Regions from separate parts of the Homo sapiens genome. Here region 2 is linked to region 1. Evidence: fine-mapped expression QTL. A gene starts in region 1. The other region holds a variant in brackets. All regions are shown on one strand. Distances are between the middles of the regions. Region 1 holds the start of GIGYF1 (GRB10 interacting GYF protein 1). Region 2 has its middle 3.8 kb from the start of ZAN.

Region 1 (2,900 bases):
GTGGAGTTGGGGGTCGGGGGTTGGGTGCAGAGCAGTGTTAACATCCTTCTGTAAGAGAAACGGAGGCTTTTGAGAGGCCAGGCGTGGCGGCTCATGCCTGTCATCCCGGCACCTTGGAAGGAGGATCCATTTGGGTCCAGGAGTTCCCGGCACTTTGGAAGGAGGATCATTTGGGTCCAGGAGTTCAAGACCAGCCTGGGCAACATGGGGGAAACCCTGTCTCTACAAAAAAAAAAAAAAAAAAAAAAAAAAAGCTGGGCGTGGTGGTGTGCCCTGGTAGTCCTAGCTACTCAGGGTGCTTGAGGCAGGAGGATTGCTTGAGCCCAGGAGGCGCAGGATGCAGTTAACCGTGATCGCGCCACTGCACTCCAGCCTGGGCGACAGAGCAAGACTCTGTCTTGGAAAACAAACAAACAACAAATACAATAAATTAAAAAAATTAGTTGGGTGTGGTGGCACACAGCTGTAGTCCCAGCTACTCAAGAGGCTGTGGCAGGAGGATCCCTTGAGACCAGGAGTTCAAGACCAGCCTGGGCAATGTTATGAGACACGCCACCCGCCCAGTCTTTACAGAGAATAAAAAAGTTATCTGGGTGTGATGGTGCACACCTATAGTCCCAACAATTCAGGAGGCTGAGATGGGAGGATCGCTTGAGACACGGGAGTTGGAGGCTGCCGTAAGCCGAGATCGGGCTAGTACACTGCAGCTGGGGCAACAGAGTGAGACCCTGCTTCAAAAAAATAAATAAATAGGGGCCGGGCGCGGTGGCTCACGCCTGTAATCCCAGCACTTTGGGAGGGCGAGACAGGCGGATCACTTGAGTGGTCAGGAGTTCTAGACCAGCCTGGCCAACAAAAATAAGCCAAACGTGGTGGTGTGTGCTTGTAATCTCAGCTACTCGGGAGGCCAAGGCATGAGAATCACTTGAATCCGGGAGGCGGAGGCTGCAGTGAGCCGAGATCGCGCCACTGGACTGCAACCTGGGGGACAGAGCAACACTCTGTCTCAATAATTAAATAAATAATTAAAAAAATAAAGAGGCTCCTGAGAGTCAACTTATTTGCCTGAGCCACTTATTTCACACATCCCAGGACGCCTGATGAAGGGTTCTGGATTTTATTGTCTCCTGTCATCCAGGCGGGCTTCCTGGAGGAAACCGGACCGCCAGGGAGGCCGCGGCCTCGGTCCCAGAGGTCGCGCGTCGCGGGGCCGGGGGAGGTGGGGGAGAGGAGGCCGCTCTGGGGCCGATCCCGCCCGCAGCTGGGGGCCCCCGTCACGTGACCAGCCGGGCGCCCAGGTCACGTGTCGGGGCGGGGAGGGGGGGGGCTGTCGGGGGCGACGGGCGTCCGGGCAGTGGCGCGCGCGGCACGCGAGCAGCGCACGAGGAGAGGTGGCGCGGGCCGGAGCCGCGGAGGGAGGCGGCGGCGGCGGCGGCGGCGGCGGCGGCGGCGGCGGCGGCGGCGGCGGCGGCGGCGGCGGCGGCGGCGGTGGAAGGGGCGGCCCCGCGGCCCCGCGTCCGCGTCACGTGGTGCGAGGCGGGCAGCCATCTTGCTACAAACACAAACACAGAGGAGCGGCCGCCGCGGGAGCGCCAGCGCCCCCTCCCCCGCTGCTAGCCGCCGTCGCCGTCCCCGGCCCCCGCCCGCCGCGCGCCGCCCACGCCCCGGGACCGGACCCTCGCGCCGCCCGCGGTAAGCGCCCAGTGGCCCCGCGGCCCCCGGCCCGCAGCCCAGCCCCGGGGCAGGCCCGCCCCCGACGCCGCGGCGGCCGCGCCGAGCCCGCGAGCTAGAGAAGCGCCGGAGCCAGCGCGCGGGCCGCCAGCGAGGACCCTCCCCCGTCTCCTCCCCGAGGCCGCCGCAGCCCGGTGCGTCCTCCCGCTCTCCCGCCCGCTCCGGCCCATCCCCGCCGCCGGGACCCTCCCCCAGAGCCGGCCAGCCTCGGGGAGGCCCCGGGAGGCCGGCGCCCGGCTTAGGGGGCGACCGCTCGCCCCCCTCGCACCTGGCGCCCCTCCCTGAAGGGCACGCCGTCCTCCCGGGCCGGCGCGCTGCCTTCCACCCCCGCGCTCCTAACGGTCGCCCCCGGGCCCCTGCCAAGCCCTGCCCTGGGCCGCCTGGGGGCCCCCGACCCTAGCGTCCTAGGGTGGCCGGGCCCCGCGCTTCCCGGAGTTCTCCCCAGCGCGCCTTTGGGTTCCCCTCGGAACGAGCTGGGCCTTGCGGTTCCCCAGGTCCAAGCGTTCCACGACTTTGGCCAACATGGAAGCCTTGCCCTCCACCCAGGCACCTCGCCTGGGTCCTCCTCACCTCTGTTTCCTTTCGCTCCGGCGATCTTAGTGCTGGGTCATTGGGGTCTCCTTCTTCCCAGTTGCTCGGCCGCGGGAAATACCTTCCTTAGCAGAGACTGCTTGTCCTCCCCGTCCCAGGCCAGGCCCTTCTCAGCTCATGCCCCTCCGTGCAGCAGCTCCCTGGCCACAGCTCTCACACTTTGCCTTAAAAAAAAAAAAAAACAAAAAAATTTCCGAGTAACTTTTTAAAAGCCCCTCGTCTCTCTTCTCTGTTATACAGTCATTACTCGCATTCCCGGTCAGACTCCAGGTCTGTTGCATCCTAGTGCTAGGAACTAGGAGATGCTACATAAAGACTTGTTAGCTGGATTGGATTTTTTTTTTCCAGCCACCCAAGCCTTACTTCCCTCCTGCCTCTCAAAGTGTCGTTCTGGAAGATCGTCAGCTTTCCCACCCTCTTGTGCACTGCCTCTTCGAGTCTATATAGAAGTTTCAATTTAGAACCCCGCCAACCCCTCGCCTTTGGCATGGAAACACCATCGGTGGTACCAGTAAGGGTCTCTCCTTTGCTGCCGACATGGGGGATTTGGGGTTCTTTCTCCTTCCCATCTTTCCTGT
Region 2 (2,900 bases), 35 kb before region 1:
AGAAAAGAAAAGAAAAGAAAAGAAATGGCCGGGCGCGGTGGCTTGTGCCTGTAATCCCAGAACTTTGGGAGGCCAAGGTAGGAGGATTGCTTGAGCCCAGGAGTTCGAGACCAGCTTGGGCAACATAGCGAGAACCCACCCTCTACACAAAAAATACAAAAATTATCTAAGCATGGTGGTGCACACCTGTAGTTCCAGTTACAAAGAAGGCTGAGGCGGGAGGGTCGCCTGAGCCCAGGAGTTCAAGGCTGCAGTGAGCTATGATTGTACCATTGCACTCCAGCCTGGGCAACACAAGGAGACTCTGTTTCTAAAAAGAAATAAATAAAAGAAAAAGAAAGCCCTTTTGCAATCCCCAGGACCGCTTCTGCCCAAATGAGGCTGAAGAGCCTCGCCATGGAATGCCAACAGAGCTCAGGCAGGGATCACATCTGAGGACTGAGAGCACCCCCCTGCCTGTTTATGTCAGACCTGGGGATATCAATGGTGTCCATCCCAAGCCCTTGTCCACCCTTCCTCCATACCAGGTTAGCAGAGGAATTAACAGAGGGGCCAGGGCCAGGAAATGGTTAACCCAGGGAAGAGGAGCAGAAGACATTGATCATAGCCACTCCCTGTTGGGCAATAAGTCCCCTGGTAGCTGCTTTAGCTGACCTCCCTTTGGGACCACAGAGCTGGGGGTCACAGCTCCCAATCCGTCTGGAAGTGGGGGTGGGGGGCTCACGGCAGGACAGGAAAGTGGGGGAGGACCCTTGGGCCCTGTATTTTAGGGAGCCAGGAACCAGCAACGCCCCAGAGACTGGCAACCTTGACAAGACTGGCAGCTGTGGGAACAGGTGTGAGAGACCTTGGGCTGTGGAAAAGCCCTTGAGAGAACTGGAGCCCAGTCCTAAATTTGCTGTGTGTCTTTGGGAACTTTTCTCACCCTCTCTGTGTCTTAGTTCCTTCCTCTGTAAGATTGGGGAGGAGGCTCAATCAGTACAGCCAAGATTTTTTTAAAGCCAGAAATCTATGATGTTGGCTGGGTGCAGTGGCTCACACCTATAATCCCAACACTTTGGGAGGCCAAGGTGGGCAGATCACCTGAGGCCAGGAGTTCAAGATCAGCCTGGCCAACATGGTGAAACCCCGTATGTACTAAAAATACAAAATTAGCTGGGCATGGTGGTGCGCACCTGTAGTCCCAGCTACTCAGGAGGCTGAGGCAGGAGAATCTCTTGAACCCAGGAGGGGTAGGTTGCAGTGAGCCGAGATCGCACCACTGCACTCCAGCCTGGGTGACAGAGTGAGACTCTGTCTCAAAAAATAATAATAATAATAATAATAAAAGAAAGAAATTTATGTGTGGCAGTCACTTTTTTTTTTGAGACAGTGTCTTGCTCTATCACCCAGGTTAGAGTTCAGTGGCTCAATCATAGCTCACTACAACCTCAGCCTCCCAAGTAGTTGGAACTACAGTCTATTTTTTAGTAGCCCAGCAAATTTTTTATAGAAACAGGGATCTCACTATGTTGACTAGGCTGGTCTCAAACTACCAGCCTCAAGTGATCCTCTCACCTTGGCCTCCCACAGTGCTGGTATTACAAGTGTACATCACCGCGCCCGGTCACGTAATTTTTTTTTTATCTTGTTTTGCCCTTGTTGCCCAGGCTGGAGTGCAATGGTACGATCTTGGCTCACTGCAACCTCCGCCTCCCAGGTTCAAGCAATTCTCCTGCCTCAACCTTCCAA[C/G]TAGCTGGGATTACAGGCATGCACCACCACACCCAGCTAATTTTTTATTTTTAGTAGAGACGGGATTTCACCATGTTGGTCAGGCTGGTCTCGAACTCCTGACCTCAGGTGATCCGCCCACCTTGGCCCCCCAAAGTGTTGGGATTACAGGCGTGAACCACTGGCCATTTTTAATAATCAATTTTCTTAAATAAAGAAGGGAGTTTAGAGACATTTGGCCATGACTCCCATAAATTGAGAAACTATACTATCGTCTATTTATTTGTTGCCAACAATCCTTCACAATGCCACAGTTTTATGATGGAATTTTAGTAGAATTAACTTTCACCATCTTCAAATAATATTATTAGCCTTCAGCTTAGATTCCAGTGTCTAAAAGACCCTGTTTAGCTAATGCAACTCCAGCAACAAACCCTACTGTGGTAAGATCACCTACTGAACTACAGTTCAGTAGTTCCAGCAGAACCCTAGGTGACTGGCCAGGCACAGTGGCTCACGCCTGTAATCCCAGCACTTTGGGAGGTTGAGGCAGGTGGATCACCTGAGGTCGGGGTTCGAGACCAGCCTGACCAACACGGAGAAACCCTGTCTGTACTAAAAATACAAAATTAACCAGGTGTGGTGGCACATGCCTGTAATCCCAGCTACTCAGGAGGCTGAGGCAGGAGAATCATTTGAACCCGGGAGGCAAAGTTTGCAGTGAGCTGAGATCGCGCCATTGCACTCCAGCCTGGGCAACAAGAGCGAAACCCCATCTCAAAGAAAAAAAAAAAGAATCCTAGGTGACCTGTGAACTAGGGACAGGTCTTTGTTCAGCCTGATGCTTGGGCCCAGAGGGAGGATTTGAGTCAGTGAGTACCCAAGAGCGAGAGGCTGCAGTTAAGATGGAGAGCTGGGGCTGCAGGAGGTGGCTGAGTTGGCTCCTAGCGCAGTACTCAGAGCAGGGAGTTGGGAAGAAGGGAAGTTGGTAGGTACTTTCTGCCTATGCAGGGAAGAAGCAGGATCCCAAGGCAGGGGATTGAATGGGAAGGAGTCGGTCGTGGAAGATGGACACGCCTTGCTGACCACAGCTGTCTCATTCACTCCATCTCTTCTCTTTCCTCTCCCTGGTGATCCTGGGTCAGAGAGAAAAGGGACTCTCTCTCTCTCTCTTTTTTTTTTCTTTTTGA

The links. PIP is the estimated chance that this variant, and not a neighbour inherited with it, causes the effect.
Region 2: its variant is the best candidate, but not a certain one, in a credible set for the expression of GIGYF1 in lung (TOPMed, PIP 0.72).

What each region holds. Positions count from the first base shown.
Region 1 is chr7:100,692,902-100,695,801 of GRCh38, reverse strand. GIGYF1 (GRB10 interacting GYF protein 1) reads left to right here and starts at 1,552. Exons shown (of 27, transcript NM_001375765.1): 1 at 1,552-1,692. RefSeq lists an enhancer at 1-446, silencers at 1,134-1,293, 1,734-1,833, 2,004-2,123 and a cis regulatory region at 985-2,478.
Region 2 is chr7:100,728,298-100,731,197 of GRCh38, reverse strand. No RefSeq gene overlaps it. Among named protein-coding and RNA genes, the nearest start is that of ZAN, 3.8 kb to the left of the region's middle. The variant C/G (reference allele first, on the strand shown) is at 1,732.